Linked DNA regions of Homo sapiens: region 1 is linked to region 2. Evidence: fine-mapped expression QTL. A gene starts in region 2. The other region holds a variant in brackets. All regions are shown on one strand. Distances are from middle to middle. Region 1 overlaps ADCK1 (aarF domain containing kinase 1). Region 2 holds the start of ADCK1 (aarF domain containing kinase 1).

Evidence for each region.
Region 1: its variant is fine-mapped to the expression of ADCK1 in lymphoblastoid cells (GEUVADIS, PIP 0.95).

Annotation. Positions count from the first base shown.
Region 1 is chr14:77,895,298-77,906,327 of GRCh38, reverse strand. It overlaps ADCK1 (aarF domain containing kinase 1), which reads right to left. Exons shown (of 11, transcript NM_020421.4): 6 at 7,070-7,228. Among named protein-coding and RNA genes, the nearest start is that of ADCK1, 100 kb to the right of the region's middle. The variant C/TTTTC (reference allele first, on the strand shown) is at 6,242.
Region 2 is chr14:77,793,313-77,804,342 of GRCh38, reverse strand. It overlaps ADCK1 (aarF domain containing kinase 1), which reads right to left and starts at 4,234. Exons shown (of 11, transcript NM_020421.4): 1 at 4,173-4,234. RefSeq lists enhancers at 1,398-2,237, 3,619-3,698, 3,709-3,758, 3,832-4,370, 4,371-4,909 and silencers at 3,949-4,308, 8,014-8,063, 8,074-8,123.

The DNA of each region.
Region 1 (11,030 bases), 100 kb before region 2:
CAAATTGTGAGGAGTTTATTTCCTCTTACAAATAAAGAAACATGGGCAGCTTTTTCAAATGTTTTGGAGAGTAAGATTTTCCTTTACCCTGACCACCCAAATTCATCTAGCAATAACATAGTGGCCCTCAAGTCAACAGACCTATTTCCTGTTCCTAATTCTGCTAATACTGTTGTGTCTTAGACTAGCCACTTAACTTCTTTACATCCCAGTCTTCCTCACTGGAAAGCAGAATTGTTTCTGCCCTATCTCAGTAAGGACCTCTGAGGATAAATGGGGGCTGTACATACAAGTGAAATGCTCTAGTTGGAACAAAGTTTCCACCAGAAAGCAAGGTGTTATTTTGGTTTGCTGCTTGACTGCGGTTTCTGCCATTTGAAAATCTGGGCCAATAGAGAAATCTGTGAAACTGATACTTTGAACTTAAAATTTAGACTTGCTTGGCATTTTTCAAAAAGTTTCTTTTTAAAAAAGTGAGTGCATGTTTGCTATTGTTGCTTTGTCGGTTTCTTTAGAGACAGGGTCTCATTCTGTCACCCAGGCTGGAATGCTGTGGCATCATCATAGCGCACTGCAGCCTCGAACTCCTGGACTCAAGAGATCCTCCTGCCTCAGCCTCTCAAAGTGCTGGGATTACAGGCGTGAGCCACCGTGCCCTGCCTGTTGTTTTTGTTCATGGCTTCCAAATGAATGGGACATATTTTCGGGTTAAATTCTTCCCTTGGGTTTGTTTGTAAACCTACCTTTGACAGTGGGCCCCTAAGGCTCTGGAGACAAGAGGTCAAATCTCTAGCCAGCCCCACCAGAGGCAGCTTAAAAAACAGCGAGGGGCTGGGCGCAGTGGCTCACGCCTGTAATCCCAGCACTTTGAGAGGCCAAGGAGGGCAGATCACTGAGGCTGAGGAAAGAGAATCGCTAGAACCTGGGAGACGGAGGTTGCAGTGGGTGAAGAATACGCCACTGTACTCCAGCCACGGTGACAGAGGGAGTGAGATTCCATCTCAAAAAAAAAAAAAAAAAAAACCAGCTAGGAAAGAGTCACAGGTGGAAACAGAAATCCCACAGGCTGGAGCTTCTCTGTGCTTGTGCATCAGGGTCCTGGGTGTACTGCGGTTTCCCCCTTTTTGGTCTCCCTGCAAACATCACCATTCCAGTCTAACCACAGAATGTGCCCCTTGCTTCTGCTGCTTAAATCTGAAATGACTAAAATATCAAACCTGGGAAACAGTGGAATTTGTCATGGGAGCTTCAGAACCACAGGTGCCCCTGGACAGACATAACATGGAAATGACTGCAAAATGCCAAACTGCTCCTGCTCAGTTAAAAAAGTGAGCTGCGCCTAAATCACCAGATGGGCAGGAGGACCTGGGGGTGTGGGGTGAAGTGAGCGCCCACATTTCCTGTCCTATGCTTCTTCCATCAAAGAAGGAAAAAATGAAAAAGAGAAATTTGAAAGAGTCAATAAGCACCCCGCACTCCCCCATCCCACCCCCAAACAAAGCAAGCTGAAACTCTAAGGAGCTCATGGCCAGGGTGCTCAGCGGCCCCACCAGCAGGGTCACACCCTGACCATTAGGACCCCTGGGTCCAGGTTCTACCTCTTTGCCACAGAGCAGAGGCCTCCCTCCTGTGGGCTCCTCCTGCCTCCCACACGGATGCCAATCTGGACCCCAAGAAGGAGGGCACCAATTAGAGAAGTTTTAGCCCAAGACCCTGGGCCTCAGCCTCACAGTCTGGCCCTGACCTCACATTTCTGCTTTGTTTCTATGCTTTGGTCAACATGCCCACGAAACAGGCTGCGCCTGGCTTGTCTGAGACAGTGCCCATCACCCTAGGCCCACAGTCCTCCTGGAGCCTGAGTCCAGCACAGCAGAAGGCCTGGAGACATGCAGTCAGACCGGCAGATTTGGAGTCAGGCTGCTGGCTGGAGCCCCGGCTCTGCCACCTAAAAGCTGTGTGACTGTGGGTAAGTTATATAACCTCTCTGAACACCAGTTTCTCCACCAAAAATATGGTGATAATGGTTACAGTGGAAGCACAACCCCACCTCCGCCCCCATTTCCCACTACTATGAGCAGAGTACTGGCACTCAACATGGAACCAGACACTAGCAGCTGCTGGAAAAAACATCGATTGCTCTTAGGACAGCCACATCGAGTTTCACAGAGGGCTCTGATACACACCAGGGCTGAGAGTTATGCTCTAGACGGTTCACTGGAATTCACAACTTCCCCACAGAGCAAAACCATATGGAGGGTGAACATGCAGGCTCTGGAGCAGGCTACCTCTATTCCCTCCCCTTAGTGGTAAGCCTTGTGACCCTGCCCAAAGGGTTGATAGCTCTGAGCCTCAGTCTCCCAACTGATGATATGGGGGTGATTATGGCACCTCCCTTGTGAGGCTGTTGTAAGAATTAAAGAATTAAAGAATATAAATCACTCTGCAAAAAAGAAGTTATATATTAATTACTATCCATCTGTAGTTCCTAATCTTTGAGATTCATGGGAAGTTATCATACTTCCCAAAAAGCATGCACATCTCCTCAGGGTTTGTCCACAATTTCTAGAGTCCTGGGCTCCTTACCTCACACTAAGGAACCCTGGCATGGCCCTGCACACCTATCCCCACCTCCACACATACAGAAATGGTCTCATCACTTCCAGTCCCAAACCCTGTGGTTATAAAGCTTCTCCCCTGCCACCTTGTCCCCAGGTGAGTCACAAACCCTACCACTTGTCCTGTTTCCATCCCCTGGCACATACGCTCTGCTGCCAGATCCACTAAGCCTGGCCTTAATCATTCAGCCTAGCTGCCCCCTCACCCTCTCCCAGTCCCCCTGACGCCATATTTGCATTCAGTGCTTGTCTGAGCCTGGGAGATTTATAGCACAGGGCTGAGGTTCTTAAACCGCACATAAGCACCGGAAGATGCCTCACACACTGAGAGGTAAAGTCTTTGCGGAGGCTTAATTATGCACAGATGTTGTGATCGGGAGCCAGTGTGCAAAAGCAGTCTATCTCCAGTTTTAAGAGCTGAACTGGGTTCACAGTGCAAAATTCACTTCCCCCTTGTTATGTGTTTAGGCAAAATTAATTACTCAAGAGCCTTAATTCCACCACTGTCTTAGGAAGGGTGTGCAAGTTTTGGAAACAGCAGGTCAAATTGGTATATTCATTATTTACCCATTTGGCATCTTCATTTGAAAAATGTGTGTTATTGTTATTATTGCATGTCTTGGTCTGGCACTTGCCAGTTGGCCCCAGCCAGGGGACAATTTTGCTGTTTCCATGGGAACAGTAGAGGAGATGGTTCTGTCTGGCTCATAGTTCTGGCTCTGAGGGGCACCCCTGCCGGTAAATGGCAGCAGAGTATCCTGAGAGGAGCACCACACTTGAAGTCAGAAAATCTGGGATGTTGCCCTAGCTCCTCTACTCAAACTGTCCTCTGCAATATGGGCTGATGCCTGCTGGAAGGACTCAACACCATAGTACCTGCAGACTGTTCAATGCAGCAGCTCCTGATGAAGAAGAAATAATCAATATATATTGCCTATAGTCAATACTTCTTAGAAGCACTCACCAGAGCCCTTTATCCTGGGTAGAATTACGTACTTCCTCTTGGGAATCCACAGAAACACAGATGAATGCCTGTCATGGTGCTAACAAACCTGCACTGCAACAACACATTGCTGTGTCTGTCCCTCCACTAGATGAGAAGTTTTCCAGAGCAGGGACAAACCTCAGCTCCCAGCACAGCAACAAGCTTGGGAATAAAAGAAATGGAATAAGCAAGTAGAAGCATGTATTAGACTCTATAGCATTATGCTAATTAGTTAACATTATCACTTGTCTCAAAGAGCCAAGTTTTCACTGAACTGGTGGTTTGAGCTCCAAGGCTGGGGCAGTGACACCAGATCTAGGCTGCACTCCTGGATTTACACACACAAGAGGGTCTGTACATCCACACCGACAATGGCAGCCAACAAAATGCCAGTCAAGCATACTGGGAGTATGGAGACGTACCCAACCCTCACCACACACAAAGAGCTAAACTTCATGGGTTCTATCTTCCACCACAGTCAATGTGTCAATACACTGCACTGATCAACACAGCTGCGGTTCTTCCTCCTGCGGATTCTCAAGTGGTTAGAATAGACACATCTTCAGTCATTCCATCCCTGTTAGTCAATCAGGAGAGCAAAAATATAGACACTTCCTCCATTTCTCATGATGTCTTCAAAAGCCAAAAGGACACCTTAGGGAAGAATGAGAGAGTCCCTTTTCCCTGATCCAATGTTCTGAGCCATCCTCCCCAAGAACAGCACAGCTTGACTGTTGGCTCTAGAACCTGCACATGGAGCTCCTGAGGGCTTGGTGACCCCTCTCGTGCATTCTCCAGGCCTGGTAAAGAAGAGGGAAGGGTGATCCATCCTAGAGTTGGAAGCTAAGCTCAGTGTAGACAACCAGAAGAGCCCTCCAAGCCCTGCACTGTTGGGATAAAGGGGGTAACCCTGTTTTAATAGGCATACACCTCAGGAAGGACAAATGTGTTGGAAGAACAGTGGTGTAGCATACATCTCTCTCCCCAGTTCCTGTGTGCTCTGAGAGAACACCAGGATGGTCCTTAAAGACCAGCTCCGGCCGGCCGCGGTGGCTCACGCCTATAATCCCAGCACTTTGGGAGGCCGAGGCAGGCGGATCATTTGAGGTCAGGAGTTTGAGACCAGCCTGGCCAAAATGGCAAAACCGTGTCTCTACTAAAAATACAAAAATTAGCCAGGTGTGGTGGCACACACCTGTAGTCCTAGCTACTCAGGAGGCTGAGGCAGGAGAATCGCCTGAACCCGGGAGGTGGAGGTTGCAGTGAGCAGAGATTGCACCACTACGCACCAGCCTGGGTGACAGAGTGAGACTCTGACTCAGAAAAATCATAATAATAAAATAATTAATTAAAAAAAAAAAAAAAGGACCAGCTCCAGGGCCAGGAGCAGTGGCTCACACCTGTAATCTCAGCACTTTGGGAGGCCAAAGTGGGCAAATCATTTGAGGTCGGGAGTTCAAGACTAGCCTGACAACATGGTGAAACCCCATCTCTACTAAAAAAAAAAATACAAATATTAGTAAGGCATGGTGGCACATGCCTATGATCCCAGCTACTTGGGAGACTGAGACAGGAGAATTACTTGAACCCAGGAGGCGGAGACTGCAGTGAGCTGAGATCGCGCCACTGCACTCCAGTCTGGGCAACAGAGCGAGACTCTGTCTCAAAAAAAAAAAAAAAAAGAACACCAACTCTAGTGCCAACTTCTCAGCAGAGCCTGCCCTGACCCAGTAGGCCATGGGAGTCCCTACTTCTGAATCCTCAGAGCATGTAGAAGCCGTACTTCTCATGGGGCACTGACAGCTGCGACTTCATATTATCTGATATTGTTTCCCACATTAAGTGTCTCTTATTACATAGAACAGTTCTGCTATAATACTTGTTTTGAAAACACAAATTTGTTCCAATGCAATTGATATGTTAGGGAATAGTTTGATCATAATGCAAATTTTGGATGTGCTTATGTGTACTATCATCTGCGAGAAACACTGTGAATGCAGAAAGCTGCATCCAGCAGAGCCGTGCCACATTGGAATACACAAAACAAACACACCTCGACATCGCTGCGAGTCGGTGAGTCACCCACATCTGGCCTTACAACTTTCTGTCCCATTTCTTTTTTGTTGTTGTTGTTGTTCCTTGAGACGCAGTCTCGCTCTGTTGCCCAGGCTGCAATGCAATGGCATGATCTCAGCTCACTACAACGTCTGCCTCCTGGGTCCAAGCGATTCTCCTGTCTCAGCCTCCCGAGTAGCTGAGATTACAGGAGTGCACCACCATGCCCAGCTACTTTTTGTATTTTTAGTAGAGACAGGGTTTCACCATGTTGGCCAGGCTGGTCTTGAACTCCTTCCCTCAAGTGATCTGCCCACCTCCGCCTCCCAAAGAACTGCGATTACTGCCATCAGCCACCATGCCCAGCCTCCGTCCCATTTCAAAGGACTCCTCCCACCACCCCACAAAACTAACAAGCAGCAACCCTTCTGATGCCCACTTCCACAGCAGGCTCAAGGTAAAGTGCCATGTGTATTGTGGTCTTATGTATTTCTTAGCCATTTAACATGTGTAAAACTATGCTACTGGTTTTTATTCATTCCTATCTTCTTTTCTTTCCTATATTACTGTATTACTGATGAATTTT[C/TTTTC]TTTTTTTTTTTTTTTGAGACGGAGTTTCACTCTTGTTGCCCAGACCTGAATGCAGTGGCGTGATCTCAGCTCACTGCAATCTCCACCTCCCGGGTTCAAGTGATTCTCTTGCTTCAGCCTCCCAAACAGCTGAGATTACAGGCACATGCCACCACGCCAGGCTAATTTTTATATTTTTAGTAGAGACGAGGTTTCACCATGTTGGCCAGGCTGGTCTCGAACTCCTGACCTCAGGTGATCCACCTGCCTCAGCCTCCCAAAGTGCTGGGATTACAGGTGTGAGCCACTGTGCCCAGCCACTGATGAATTTTTTTGAGTGTTGTGCCCCTAACTCTATTTTCCCCATAAGCTCTGTGGTTTCTCTTATGTGATTTTCCATAACTGCAGTATTTCTAGGGACACATATGTTTTGTTACAGAAGAACCAACTGTATGAGCCAAGGTAAAACACATGTGTTTAAAACAGTCCCAGCGTACAGTAGTGTTAGCTATCAGCATCGCCATCATCATCACCATCCCATGCCTCACAGAGGCAGAGACCACGGCATATAGGTTCTTGGCTAAGGCTCAGTGTCTTGTAGTTGTCGATTATTCAATAAACATCTGTTTAATTGACTAATGGGTCAACAATCACACTTGATATTTCTTTGCAAATTGCCTTCAAGTGATTTAATGCACATCACCAGTGATGTCATTCATCCTCAGTAAGAGGACTCAGGAAGAAGATGTCCCAATTATGTCCTGAAAGGGATGCTCAAGGCAGGGACCCACATACCGCTACACTCTTCCACCAGACCACCATACCCTGCATTGCATCGTCCCACCTACCTTCAAGAAGTCAAAATGCCTGAGCATCTGGGACACCTTCTCAGCATTCCTCCCTTCATTGAGGAAATCCAGCTCCAAAGGCAGGTTCTTCTTGGCTTCATCCACAAGCCACATAAACTCAAACTCTGGGAACAGCTGCTTCACAGCCAGAACGAGCACCTGAAATCCAACAAGCACCCCAGTCATTTGGCCCACAGCATATACCAAGGGACATTCCCTACCTTCCTGCCTGGTTCTCCCCTAGAGTAAGGGAAACTGCTCCCCTGGGGCCCATCCCTCCTCTGAATTCCAGGAGGGAAACATAGTAGGCTCCTGCTCTCCCATAAGCTTGGTACTCTGCACCAAGTCCAAGATGATGATAGCCCAACAGCCAGCATCGGTAACCATGACTACCACTTGCTGAGGGTTCCCCTCGTGCCCAGCACTAACTAAGCACTTATTTTTTATTTTATTTTATTTTTTAAGTTCTGGGATATGTGTGTAGGATGTGCAGGCTTGTTTCATAGGTAAACGTGTGTCATGGTGGTTTACTGCACCTATCAACCCATCACCTAGGTATTAAGCCTGGCATGCATTAGCTCTTTTTCCTAATGCTCTCCCCCACCCCCCAACCGTCGCCCAACAGGCCCCAGGTGTGTTGTTCCCCTCCCTGTGTCCATGTGTTCTCATTGTTCAGTTCCCACTTATAAGTGAGAACAAGCGGTCTTTGGGTTTTTTTGTTCCTGCATTAGTTTGCTGAGGATAATGGCTCCCAGCTTCATCCATGACCCTGCAAAGGACATGATCTCATTCCTTTTTATGGTTGCATAGTATTCCATGGTGTATATCTACCACATTTTCTTTATCCAGTCTCCCATTGATGGGCATTTGGGTTGATTCCACATCTTTGCTACTGCGAATAGTAAACTAAGCACTTTACTTACTACTAAACTTAATCCTTGCAACAACTCTGGGAGGCACACAGATACACATCTTATCATCCCTTTTCTGTTGTTTAGACAAGATGTCACTCTGTAGCCCAGACTGGAATGCAGTGGCGTGATCAATCACAGTTCACTGCAACCTTGACCTCCAAGGCTCAAGTGATCCTCCCACCTCAGCCTCCTGAGTGGCTGGGATTACAGATATGCATCACCATGCCCAGCTAATTTTTTTAATTTTTTTGTAGAGACAGAGTCTCACTGTGTTGCCCAGGTTGGTCTCAAGCTCCTGTCCTCAAGCAGTCCTCCTGCCTCAGCCTACCAAAGTGCTATCCCATTTTATAGATGAGGAATTTGAGGCTCTGAGGGGTTATATGATTTTCAAAAAATCTGCCCAGCAAGGAAGTACCGAGCTAGAATTCCCCCTGGGAATTCCACAGCCAACTCTACAGCCCTTGCTCTGAAACACTTAGCTCAACTGCTGCTGTGGCTGCTCCCCGATCTGTTCTGGTCTGTTCACAAAGCACTGGGAGGGTGCTGCAAATGTAACTGTCATTACTTTATTTCTTAAGTTGAATGTTTGGTGCTTGAACATTTATAATACTATTTTCTATACTTTCTGTACGTCTAAAATGTTTCATAATAAAAAACTAAATTGGAATAAGAAAACAAAGCTGGATAAGACGAGAGGAGACAGAGAGAAGGAATTTGACCACTTGGATGAAAAGCTTTGATTTTTGGCAATTTGACTCCACTGTGGATTCTTGAGTGATGACATGTTAAGAGGGGGTTTTAGAAGATGTATCTGGCATTCAGGGGTCAGTTTAATGATGTGAAATTAAAGAAGAGCCCAGTGATCTGTGCACAGCATACCACAGCCCCTGCCATGAGCAGAGACACAATCCTAAGGCTGCCCCACCACCAGGGCCCTGGATTTGAGATGGGTGCCCAAGTTCCTGGATGATGGCTCTGTAGTGGGTGAGCAAGGGTGATACCAGGGACATAGGAGGTGTTCCAGAATTCTGGGAGGGAAACAGAAGGGCCCTGACCTCCCATAAGCTCTCCTGCTGGCATTCGAAGCCAGGCCTGGGGAGAACATTGACTGATTGACCCAGTAATTCTTAGTATAAATGACAGTCCGAGTTATCTGAGAACAACCATCTCTAACCCTGGCTATAGCAGATGGCAATAAGAACTAACAAGCTGTGGGCCTGTTGGTACCAAAAGACCTTCCCCTTCCCATCTTTCCAGAAAGACTTACTGAGCCCCAGATAAAAGCCTTGTCTCATGCTTCTTTTTGCCCTGTTCTATGATATTTTGCCCAATGCTGTGTTGGCAAAAGAAATCAATCTAAAGCCAGACTATTAACTACAAGGCATTTACAGCTTTGTTTTCAAGCCCTATGTCCTGGGTGATGTACCAGACGCCATTCCAAAAAGAATCATCGCACCGTGTTATCATGCTCAATTTCTACCAAAACTTCTTTTAATTACATTTGGCTGTAGTTTAATTTCTTTTGAGTTTTGTCTGGTCTTTCATGGGCTAGACCTGTGACCTTATGATAATTGATTTAGTTTATGTTTTGTTTGTATCAAGCAAGACTAGAAGGGAGAGGGGGCAACAGAGAGGCCTGGACTGTATGCCTCAAGCCCTGGCACCTGGGCACCGCAGCCTCCAGACATCAAATCTCGTCACAGTGCCCTCAGATGGCCCTTGGCAGCAACCAGAGCAGATGCAGAGCAAGTGAACGGGAAACAGAAGTGATTCCCCCAGGCCCAGGCGGAGGCCAGCCATGCCATCTAAGTCACCTGAATTCCACTTTTCTGGGCTTGGAATGCAGGCAAGAAAAGCTATCCAGCATTTTGCTCCAATCTCAACTCCAGAGGGTCTCGCCCGAGAGGGGCAAGGAAAGGGGCCACAATGAGGCTCTCTCATTTGTCCAATCAATATTTACTGATTACCCTCCAGGTAATTACCATAGGCCAGACGTGGATATGCACAGAGAGCTACCTGTAGCCCAGTGAGGTCTCTACTTGGGGGTGAAGCTTCTGGCCAAACAGTAATTCCTCATCATTTATTGTATGGTCACTGTTTTTTGTGGAATTTTTAATTATCATTGATATCCAAGCAGCACTGAAAGGCACATTAAAGATTTTCCAGTTACTAATCAATTACATAATTAGTCATTATTAATACTATTCATTATTATTAACACTTGGTAATACCTGACATCATTAATCATAAGCAGTCTATTATATTAACTAATATTAATTGCTAGTAACTAATTAGTAAGCTAATTCATAACACAGAAAACTTTACAGTGCTCATCGAACTGGTTTCTAAGGCATCCTGTGGGTTGTGGGTCACTTCCTTGGTTACTTAAAATGAAGGGGGTTCTTTGAATAGAAGTCAGTGGTTCTCAGATTTATGGAATGTCACCATCCCCTTTATAGGAGGTCACCAATTTTAAAACTTGATACCCGCTACGAAGCCCAGAAAATGAACATACATAATTTTGCACATAATTCAAGGGGTTCACCAACCCCTTGAAATTCAGTGGGTGGGGAGGGGGTCAGGTTAAGAGTCGTCGGGTTCAAGTAGTTCGGGCTGCTGCCATTTTAGACTTTTCTTGGCTGAAGAAAGTAAAATAAAACTCAGTTTCACCGTCTGGTTTCATTCAACTCCCTTCTTAAATGAATCTACTTAGCCCACCTTAAGCAGATTCATTTCAATTTTTCTTTTTGACAACACATGCAATCAACTAAAATAAAACAGGTGTTGTTATCAATTTGACTTTTTGATTTTTCTCCCAAAATGCATCTTCTCCATAAAATTCTTCTAACAGCCAATGTTTTCACCAGTGCCTACCACCTACTCAACACTCCACAGATGTTTATTGAATACTCACATGAATGAATGAATGAGTAAATGAATGAACAAATGAATATTTCAAAGAGTTTGTCTGCTTCTCTGAGATAATTATATGTTCACATGTGTTATCCAAAGAAAATGAGTTTTTCTATTTCTGAGGTTTTAGTGGA
Region 2 (11,030 bases):
GAGTCTTTAACATGCAAATGAGTTGCTTCCCTCGGGGTATTGTAAAAGACCCTGTCAGGCGTGAAATATGTCTGTCAATTGAAAACATTTTTCCTTATTAAACCCTTTGTTAATGAATCACCTGCCCTGTTCTGCTTACTAGCCTTTTTGACTTTCACCTGAGTCACCTCTCCTAACAGTACATACCTTACAGGGGGTCTGAGGCCACCAAAACCCTTAAACCTAATCACTAGATAATAACACTAGCAAGAACTAGCCTTTATATTAAAATAGAGCCCTTTACACTCAACTCATTAGATATTCCACACAACCCAGTGAGGAGAGACAAATATTATTACCATCCCCAGGTATAAATGAGGAAACCAAGGAGCAGAGAGGGTGAGAGATTTGTCCCAGGTGGCTCAGCTAGTAAAATGGCTAAGAGCTTGAGCAGGGCCTTCCCACTCATTCCAAGTATTCAGCCCTTCTCTTTATGACAGGTAACGTCTTTGATAGGAACACCTGGACTCCTGTTCACTAAAGTCCTTACTGCTGTTCTCAAGTAAATGCAACTGTTGCTGTGGGCAGAGACTATGATTTCTGACCCAGTGCCAGGCATGTGGGAGGCACTGTTTGGAGCCCCCAAAATCAACAGGATGTCACAAGATCAACCAATGCCTCCCACTAGAAACAAGCCATTTCAGTCTATCAAATGTTTAGGAGAGCTGCAAAGCTGACATGGCTGTTTTATTGTCAAATCAATGACAAGAATGGAATCCATCTCGCTGGACCACAGGAAACACCCCAGTAGGTTATGAAAATGAAGCAACAGGAGAGTCTGGGACGTACAAATGGGAAGCTGATGGTCACACGAAATGTCCGTCCCCTTGACAGAACTAAATGGGAAACCAAGCACTTACTGTTCATCGGAGTCAGTGACTAGCTAGGCCTTTTCAGTTTCCATCCATTGGCAGCCCTCTCCCTATGCTACATTTCAGGACTAAAGGCCTGGAATCACCTTTCCCTGTTTGGTGCACAAATGAGAATTACCACAGAGAAAAGGCACTTAGGTCTCTAGTTCCATGAAAAGTGACCATGGCCTCCTCCCATTTCCTAGAGAGACTATTATACCAATGAGCATTATTTCTTCTAGTCTGCCCCCAAAACTGAAAAAAGACCCAAAAATACCCTTGGAGAGAGTGATAGGGTCTTCAGAAGAACCTGGTCCCTGATATGGATAGAAAGCACACAAAGTGAATGATACCATCATGCCTCAAGTCTGGAAAGATGCCAAAGACACCAAGTCAATAGCAAGGGACTGTGTGAAGTTGGCCTGAGCAGGTTTACAGTCTGCCCTCCCTAAGATAGTAATGTAGTCCAGGAACCAAATTGTATTTATTTATTTATTTTGAGATGAAGTCTCATTCTGTCGCCCAGGCTGGAGTGCAGTGGCGCAATCTCGGCTCACTGCAAGCTCCGCCTCCCGGGTTCCAGCCATTCTCCTGCCTCAGCCTCCTGAGTAGCTGGGACTACAGGCACCCGGCACCACGCCCAGCTAATTTTTTTGTATTTTTTTTAGTAGAGACGGTGTTTCACCATGTTAGCCAGGATGGTCTCGATCTCCTGACCTCGTGATCCGCCCGCCTTGGCTTCCCAAAGTGCTGGGATTACAGGCGTGAGCCACCGCGCCCGGCTAGGAACCAAATTTTAATCAAACTCCCTTTCCTAGTGTTTGATGCCTAAGCACTCAAGGTCCTTAAATCAATGTTGATTAAATAAAGGAATCCCGGGAGGCTGAAGCAAGAGAATTGCTGGAACCCGAGAGGCAGAGGCTGCAGTGAGCCAAGATCGTGCCACTGCACTCCAGCCTGGGCGACAGAGCAACACTCTGTCTCAAAAAATAAAAAAAGGAATCCCTGACTGATGCCAAGGTCCCAGAATAGACAACAAAAATAATTCTCACCCAGGCAAGGAATAGAAATCCTCCATTCAGTCCATCCTAGGAAAGGCAGACTGAGGGAGAATAGGGCAAAGCCAGATGCAAAGAGCAAGCAGCAGGTAAGAGAAGAGAGTGAGCTTCCAACGGGAGAGCTACAGTACCAAGCACTTATTAGCTCATTAACTCACACAACCAGATTCCGAGGTGCATGCTATTAGAGCTTCAATCTATGGATAAGGAAGTGGTGTTTTAGAAAAGGTAGAAAACTTGGCCAAGGAGCTGGTAAGTGATGGAGGCAGAACTTGAATCCATGTATGACTGCTCCCACCAAGAGAGCAAAAAGTGCACAAGAACAAGCAGCTTGCTGGGCCCTGAAATAGGCCACTGGAGTCCCTGCAACATGGAAACCTTAACCCAGGAGGCATATTTAGTGAGTTACCCTGGTGAAGAAATGGATGGCTGACCCAACTAAATTTTTTTTTTTTAGACGGAGTCTTGCTCAGTCGCCCAGGCTGGAGTGCAGTGACACGATCTCGGCTCACTGCAGCCTCCGTCTCCCGGGTTCAAGCTGTTCTCCTCCTCAGCCTCCCAAGTAGCTGGGACTACAGGCACACACCACTACGCCCAGGTAATTTTTTTGTATTTTTGGTAGAGATGGGGTTTCACCATGTTGGCCAGGCTGGCATTGAACGCCTGACCTCAAGTGATTCGCCCACCTCAGCCTCCCAAAGTGCTGGGATTACAGGTGTGAGCCACCGCACCCGGCCCCAACTAATATTCTTACAGGTCCTTTGTCTGACAAGAAAATGACTGCATAGCAGAAAGTAAGAATATGCACACTCTTCTAGTACAGATCAAATCGCACATCCCTGAGGCCAGTTGAGAAATGGCCAAGCAAAGAATGACCCAATAAGGTAGAATATGATGTAACCAGGAAAAATGACAAGTATAGACTACATTAAAATCTGTATATAAATTAATATGGAGGGAGTTAACAGTGTACAAAGTAATATGCACATATTTACAATCACCAAAAAAGTAAAACTGGCAAATAAAGACAGAAAGACCCGTAACCAGGTGTGAAGAGATAGTGCTTTAAGTTCACAGGATTTTTTTTCCTATAAAGCAGTGGTACTCAACGTATGGTCCCCAGACCAACAGCAACTGCATCACTTGGGTGCATGTTAGAAACGCCAATTCTTGGTCCTCATACCAGACTTACAGAATCAGAAACTTTGGGGATGGGGTCCAGTACTGTGTGTTGTTACTAGCTCTCCAGGTGACTCTGGTGCATGCTAAAGTTTGAGAACCACTGTAGTAAGAAAATTATTTTATTTATTTTCCTTTTTTTCTTTTAATACAGACGGGAGTCTCACTATGTTGCCCAGCCTGGTGTTGAACTCCTGCCCTCAAGCAATCCTCCCATCTTGGCCTCCCAAAGTGCTGGGATTACAGGCATCAGCCACCACATCCAGCCCCAAGAAAATTATTAAATAAAACATATGAAGCCACAGATAAAGTCTAATTCACTTCAACTCTGCAAATATTTCTTGAGCACCTACTAAGTGCCAAGTATCATGGAGGTAAACAATAAATACTTGTTGAATGACTTTCTTGTTAGTAGAAAGTAAATGCCACTTAACCCTGGGAGAGGGCTGTTCTAGGTGTCTTATCTAAAGGTTGCTCTCCACACACACTGGCTGCTGTTAGCACATATCTACTGTGTGATCTGGAAGCCCAGGGCCCTGCAAGATGCTGGAGATAAGCAGCGGTCTGGGGCACGTTCGCAAGACCGGGTGGAGGGCCAGGATATGGGCATCGCCCCCTGCTCTTGCCCAGACCACGCTCCAGCTCCAGCTGCTTCTGCCTCGGAACTCACAGGGCCACCAGGGGGTGAAGGCGTCTGGGTGAGCCACCTCCGGCCCTCCTCCAGCTCTGCCCACTCGGGTGCCTGCAAGACTGTGCCACTGAAGTGGACAGGTCACATGAAAGCCCACTGGTGTGCCAAACTGGAGAAGTCACTGCAGGGGGGCGGGGCAATGCGAGTCACCCGAGCCACGTGGCCGCGCGCCGGGCCCAGGTGACAAGGTCATGGGGCTGTCCCTCCCGGCGCCCAGGGCGGCTGCACAACCGGAGCAGAGGCCGACTCCCGGCGTGTCCATGCCGGTTCCCTCGCGCTCCAGGCGCGGTGCGGCCCTGCCAGGCTGGTCGGCCCGAGCTCTGCGCCGGCCTCCGGCGAGCTGCCCCTACTCACCCCGAGGGAAGCAGAGCCGCGGCGCCCGGCTTCCGGCCGCAACCCGGTAGCGGGGAATTAGCTGGGAACCGTGCGGGGACAGCCACCTGACTGCGCTTAGTGAAGCCGAGGCGCGCGCGGCCTGCCGGGACTTGTAGTTCCTGGTTCCCCACGCCGCGATCCCGCGGGCAGTACTGTGGAGGCACAGGGGTCTCGGGCTTACTCCGTCAGGTGGCCTTGTTGCTTTGCCAGGGCGACGGACTTGGAATATTACTGAAATATTTTCTTCAAGACATTCTAACTACGTCCCAGGTTCGTGTTTAATGAAAGATGAAGTGGATTTGTAGATTTTTTTTTTTTGAGACTGAGTCTCGCTCTGTCGCCCAAGCAGTACAGCTAATTTTTGTATTTTTTTTAGAGATGGGGTTTCACCATGTTGGCCAAGCCGGTCTCAAACTCCTGACCTCAAATGATCCGCCCGCCCAAAGTGCTGGGATTACAAGAGTGAGCCACTGCGCCCGACCTCGTAGATTTTATTCATTCATTCATTCATTCATTCATTCATTTTGAGACAGAGTCTCACTCTGTCGCCCAAGCTGGAGTGCAGTGGCCCATCTCGCCTCACTGCAACCTCCGCCTCCCGGGTTCAAGTGATTCTCCTGCCTCAGCCTCCTGAGTAGCTGGGATTACAGGAGTGTGCTACCACGCCCTGCTAATTTTTTGTATTTTTAGGAGTGACGGGGTTTCGCCATTTTGCCCAGGCTGGTCTTGAACTCCTGAACTCAGGCAATCCACCCGCCTTGACTTCCCAAAGTGCTGGGATTACAAGCCTGAGCCACCTCACCGGGCCATAGATTTTAAATAAGATATTGGAACTAGTAGGCGAAGAAGAAATTTACTGACAATTGATGTATGCTGGCGGGGCGGTGGCTCACGCCTGTAATCCCAGCAGGCCAAGGCTAGCAGATCACCTGAGGTCGGGAGTTTGAGACCAACCTGACCAACATGGAGAAACCCCGTCCCTACTAATAATAGCAAAAATTAGCCAGGCCTAGTGGTGCATGCCTGTAATCCCAGCTACTCAGGAGGCTGAGGCACTAGAAACCCGGGAGGCAGAAGTTGCGGTGAGCCGAGGTCACGCCATTGCACTCCAGCCTAGGCAACAACAGCGAAACTCCGTCTCAAAAATAATAATAATAATGCTGGCTGGGCAGGACGCAGTAGCTCACACCTGTAATCCCAGCACTTTGGGAGGCTGAGGCGGGCAGATCACCTGAGGCTAGGGGTTGGAGACCAGCCAGGCCGACATAGTGAAACCCCATTTCTACTAAAAATAGAAAAATTAAGCCGGGTGCGGTGGCTCATTCCTGTAATCCCAGCACCTTGGGAGGCCAAGGTGGGCGGACCACTTGAGGCCGGGAATTTGAGACCAGCCTGGCCAACATAGTGAAATCTGTCTCTGCTAAAAATACAAAAATTAGCCTGGTGTGGTGGTGCACGTCTGGAATTTCAGCTACTCAGGAAGCTGAGGCAGGAGAATCGCTTGAACCCGGGAGGCGGAGGTTGCAGTGAGCTGAGATCACGCCACTGCACTCCAGCCTAGGCAACAGAGTGAGACTCTGTCTCCAAAAAGAAAAAAAAGAAAAAGAAAAATTAGCCCAGCATAGTGGCGGGCACCTGTTATCCCAACTACTCGGGAGGCTGAGGTGGGAGAATTGCTTGAACCCAGGAGGTGGAGGTTGCAGTGAGCTGAGATTGGGCCACTGCACTCCAGCCTGGGCAACAGAGCAAGACTCGTCTCAAAATAAATAAATAAATAAATATAATATGCTAGCTAATCTTAGTTATCTTTGGCCCTTATTCATTCATTCACTGATCTCCATTATCAAATGTTGACTTATAAGATGCACTTTGAAGACATGTATCAAAAACATTTCTCTTTTTTTTTTTGAGACAGGGTCTGGCTGTGTTGCCCAAGCTGGAGTGTAGAGGCTCCATCACTGTAGCCTCAACTTCCTGTCCTCAAGGTACCCTCCTGCCTCAGTCTGTGGAGTAGCTGGGACTACAAGCACATACTGCCACGCCTGGCTAAATTTTTTAAATTTTTTCTCAAGAAAAGCTGGGGGGTGTGGTCTCACTATATTGCCCAGGCTGGTCTCGAATTTCTGTGCTAAGCCATCCTCTGGCCTTGGCCTCCCAAAGTGCTGGGATTACAGGTGTGAGCCACCACGCCAGGCCTCAGACGTTTGTTTATTCTATAAACATCTCTTGAGCTATTTTTTTCATGGGGGAATTAATCTATCAGTCCAATGCAGTTCCAATCAAATTTCCAACATAATTTTTTCTGGACCTTCACAAACTAATCAAAAGTGTGTATGAAAAAACAAAGGGCAGCGCAGTGGCTCGTGCCTGTAATCCCAGCACGTTGGGAGGCTAAGGCAGGTGGATCAGTTGAGGTCAGGAGTTCATCACCAGCCTGGCCAACATGGTAAAACCCCATCTCTACTAAAATACAAAAATTAGCCAGGCATGGTGGTGCACACCTGTAATCCCAGCTACTCAGAAGGCTGTGGCAAGAGAATCCTTGAACCCGGGAGACAAATGTTGCAGTGAGCCAAGATCATACCACTGAATTCCAGCCTGGGTGACAGAGCGAGACTTTGTCTCAAAAAAAAAAAAAAATACAAAAAACAAAAAAAAACCACCACTTTAAGGCAAAGCATAGCCAAAACATTCTTGAAGAAGAAAAATGTGTTTCAAGGACGCACCCTTCCATGTCAACATGTATTATAAAGCTATACAAATTAAGACCATGTGATATTGGAATAGGGAAAGGCAGAGGGGGAAATGGAACCACCTACAGAGCCCAAACATGCAGGCATCTATGAAATGAGGTATGGCTGGAATTATAGTTCAGTGAGGGAAGATAGAGTATTCAGTACATGGGCTGGAACAACCAGTTACCTGTTGGATCCCCTATGCAAAAACTAATTCAAGGTAGGTTAAAGACTTACAGGGGAAATTAAAGCATTTTAAAATTACAACTTTTTTTTTCTTCTTACTATCGTTCCCCAAAATTATAACTTTTACAAGAAAAGAAAACATCCTTATGATCTCAGGGTAGGGTTTATTAAGTGCCATAATCACAAACTGTAAATAAAACTTTGATAAATTTAAACTACATTAAATTTAAGCACTTGTCTTTATTGAAAGACAGCATAGACTGAGCACAGTGGCTTATCCCTGTAACCACGACAGTTTGGGAGGCCAAGGCAGGAGAATCGCTTGAAGCTGGGAGTTAGAGACCAGCCTGAGCAACATAGCCAGACCCTATGAGATTACAGAAAAATTAAAAATTAGCTGGGCATGGTGGCGCATGCCTGTAGTCCCAGCTACTCTGGAGGCCAGGGAGGGAGGATCTTGAGCCCAGGAGTTCAAGGCTGCAGTGAGCTTTGATGAGTCTTGCCACTGCACTCCAGCTGGGCAACAGAGAGAGAGCTAAACCCGGTCACTAAAAAAGAAAAAAAAAGATAATTGCAGCACAGAGGTAGCAGTAGTATAGAGTTAAATAACACAGCCCCCACCATCTAAAGTTTGCAATGTATAGGCATTAAGATAAGAAGATTGATAACTTCCAAATAATGTGAGAAGTGTTAAGATTGAGGTATGAACAAAGTGGCTTAGGAACAGAAAAAAGGGAGCATTAGGCCAGGTGCAGTGGCTCACACCTGTAATCCCAGCACTTAGGGAGGCCAAGGCAGGCAGATCACTTGAGGTCAGGAATTCCAGCCCAGCCTGGCCAACATGGTGAAACCCCGTCTCTACTAAAAATACAAAACTTAGCTGGGCGTGGTGTCACACGCCTGTAGTCCCAGCTGCTCTAGAGGCTAAGGCAGGATACTCGCTTGAACCTAGGAGGCAGAGGTTGCAGTGAGCCGAGATCATGTCACTGCACTCCAGCCTGGGTGACAGAGCAAGACTCCATCTCAAAAAATAATAATAAATTAAAAATAAAATAATAATAAGGGCCAGGCACAGTGGCTCATGCCTAAAATCCCAACTACTCAGGAGGCTCACGTGGGAAGATAACTTGAGCCCAGAAGGTCAAGGGTACAGTGAGGCATGATTGCACCACCACCGCATTCCAGCCTGGGTGACAGAGAAAAACCCAGTCTAAAAAAAAAAATCACCTGGAGAGCTTTAAAAGTCTTCCTGGGCCATAGCTGGCACTAGCACCCCTTCAACTACTGGGAATGGGACTGAGTCATAGGTATTTTGTAGAGCTCCCTGTAGGATTTCAATGCACAGCTGAGGTTAAAAACCCCGATTTAGAGTCAAAGAATCTTATTTGAACTGGGTGACTCACAGCAGGTTTTCTAATTTTGGCAGAGCTTTAGTTTCTGTCTTGATAAAATGGAGTTAATACTATTGTCAGTCCTATCTACCTCAAAGGGCTTGTGAGGATCAAGTGCAATGGTGCAAGTGCTTTGGAAGCTGAATGTTGCTGTTCAGAGGAGTGTCATGACACTGAGAAGAAAATCCAAACTCTTTGCCTGATGTGGGGAAAAGCAAGAGAGATCAGATTGTTACTGTGTCTGTGTAGAAAGAAATAGACATGGGAGACTCCATTTTGTTATGTACTAAGAAAAATTCTTCTGCCTTGAGATTCTGTGACCTTACCCCTAACCCCGTGCTCTCTGAAACATGTGCTGTGTCAAACTCAGGGTTAAATGGATTAAGGGCGGTGCAAGATGTGCTTTGTTAAACAGATGCTTGAAGGCAGCATGCTCCTTAAGAGTCATCACCACTCCCTAATCTCAAGTACCCAGGGACACAAAAACTGCGGAAGGCCGCAGGGACCTCTGCCTAGGAAAGCCAGGTATTGTCCAAGTTTTCTCCCCATGTGATAGTCTGAAATATGGCCTCGTGGGAAGGGAAAGACCTGACCGTCCCCCAGCCCAACTCCTGTAAAGGGTCTGTGCTGAGGAGGATTAGTATAAGAGGAAGGCATGCCTCTTGCAGTTGAGACAAGAGGAAGGCATCTGTCTCCTGCCCGTCCCTGGGCAATGGAATGTCTCGGTATAAAACCCGATTGTACGTTCCATCTACTGAGATAGGGGAAAAGCGCCTTAGGGCTGGAGGTGGGACATGCGGGCAGCAATACTGCTTTGTAAAGCATTGAGATGTTTATGTGTATGCATATCTAAAAGCACAGCACTTAATCCTTTACCTTGTCTATGATGCAAAGACCTTTGTTCACGTGTTTGTCTGCTGACCCTCTCCCCACTATTGTCTTGTGACCCTGACACATCCCCCTCTCGGAGAAACACCCACGAATGATCAATAAATACTAAGAAAACTCAGAGGCTGGCGGGATCCTCCATATGCTGAACGCTGGTCCCCAGGGTCCCCTTATTTCTTTCTCTATACTTTGTCTCTGTGTCTTTTTCTTTTCCAAGTCTCTCGTTCCACCTTACGAGAAACACCCACAGGTGTGGAGGGGCAACCCACCCCTTCAGCCTGACCCTCCTGGCTCCCCAGAGGCTGGCTCCACTCCCTCTCTCCAGCCTCATTTCCCACCCTTCTCTTCCCTGGCTCACTCCACTCCAACCGCATCAGCTTCCTTTCTGTTCTCAATCTGCCAAGCTGGCTGCTATCTGGGCAGCCGTTACACTTGCTATTCCCCCATATCTTCAATGGTCTGCTCCATCCTGGCAATTTGTTCTCTGCTAATGTTACTCTCCAGAGAGGTCATCCCCAATTACCCCTATCTCCCCACTCACCCCCACATTCCCTGAGACACACTCTACCTCCTTACACTGTTTTATTTATAAAATTTATTTAAAATCACTTATCAATACTTGAATTTTGTGGGGAGGGGGCAGTTTGGTACAGATGTTCTTTATCTTGGTGGACCTTATGTCCGAATATAAATGATTAAAGCTCAGATCATTTCTTCTTCATGTCTTCCCATGTTACAACAGTGGTACAGGCTTAATGTGAAGACTCAAACTTGCTTTGTTGTTGTTGTTGTTGTTGTTATTGTTGTTTTTGAGACCGAGTCTCATTCTGTCACCCAGGCTGGAGTGCAACGGCACCATCTCGGCTCACTGCAACCTCTGCCTCCCCGGTTCAAGCGATTCTCCTGCCTCAGCCTCTCAAGTAGCTGGGATCACAGACACCTGCCACCACGCCCGCCTGATTTTTTGTATTTTTAGTAGAGACAGGGTTTCGCCATGTTGGCCAGGCTGGTCTCAAACTCCTGGCCTCAAATGATCCATCCGCTTTAGCCTCCCAAAGTGCTGGGATTACAGACATGAGCCACCACAGCCAGCTTATGATGTGAAGAGTCAGACTTGTATTTTCTTTTTTTTTTTTGGAGATGGAGTCTCACTCTGTTGCCCAGGCTGGAGTGCATCGGCACAAACTCGGCTCACTGCAACTTCCGCCTCCCAAGTTCAAGTAATTCCCCTGCCTCAGCCTCCCGAGTAACTGGGATTACAGGCATGCACCACCATGCCTGGCTAATTTTTGTATTTTAGTCGAGACTGGGTTTCACCATGTTAGCCAGGCTGGTCTCAAACTCCTGACCTCAGGTGATCCGCCCGCCTCAGCCTCTCAAAGTGCTGGGATTACAGGTGTGAGCCACAGTGCCCAGCCTGAGAACAAGGATTTATCTGCCTCTGACTGCTGAGGAATCCCAGAAAAGGCACATCACCTAAGCCCTTCAGAGTTCTTATCTGTTATAGGGAAAGGAAAAATTCCATGTGAAAAACAGCTGATAAGGCCAGGAGCCATGGCTCATGCCTGTAATCCCAGCACTTTGGGAGGCAGAGGTAGAAGGTTAGCTTGAGCTTAGGAGTTTGAGACCAGCCTGGG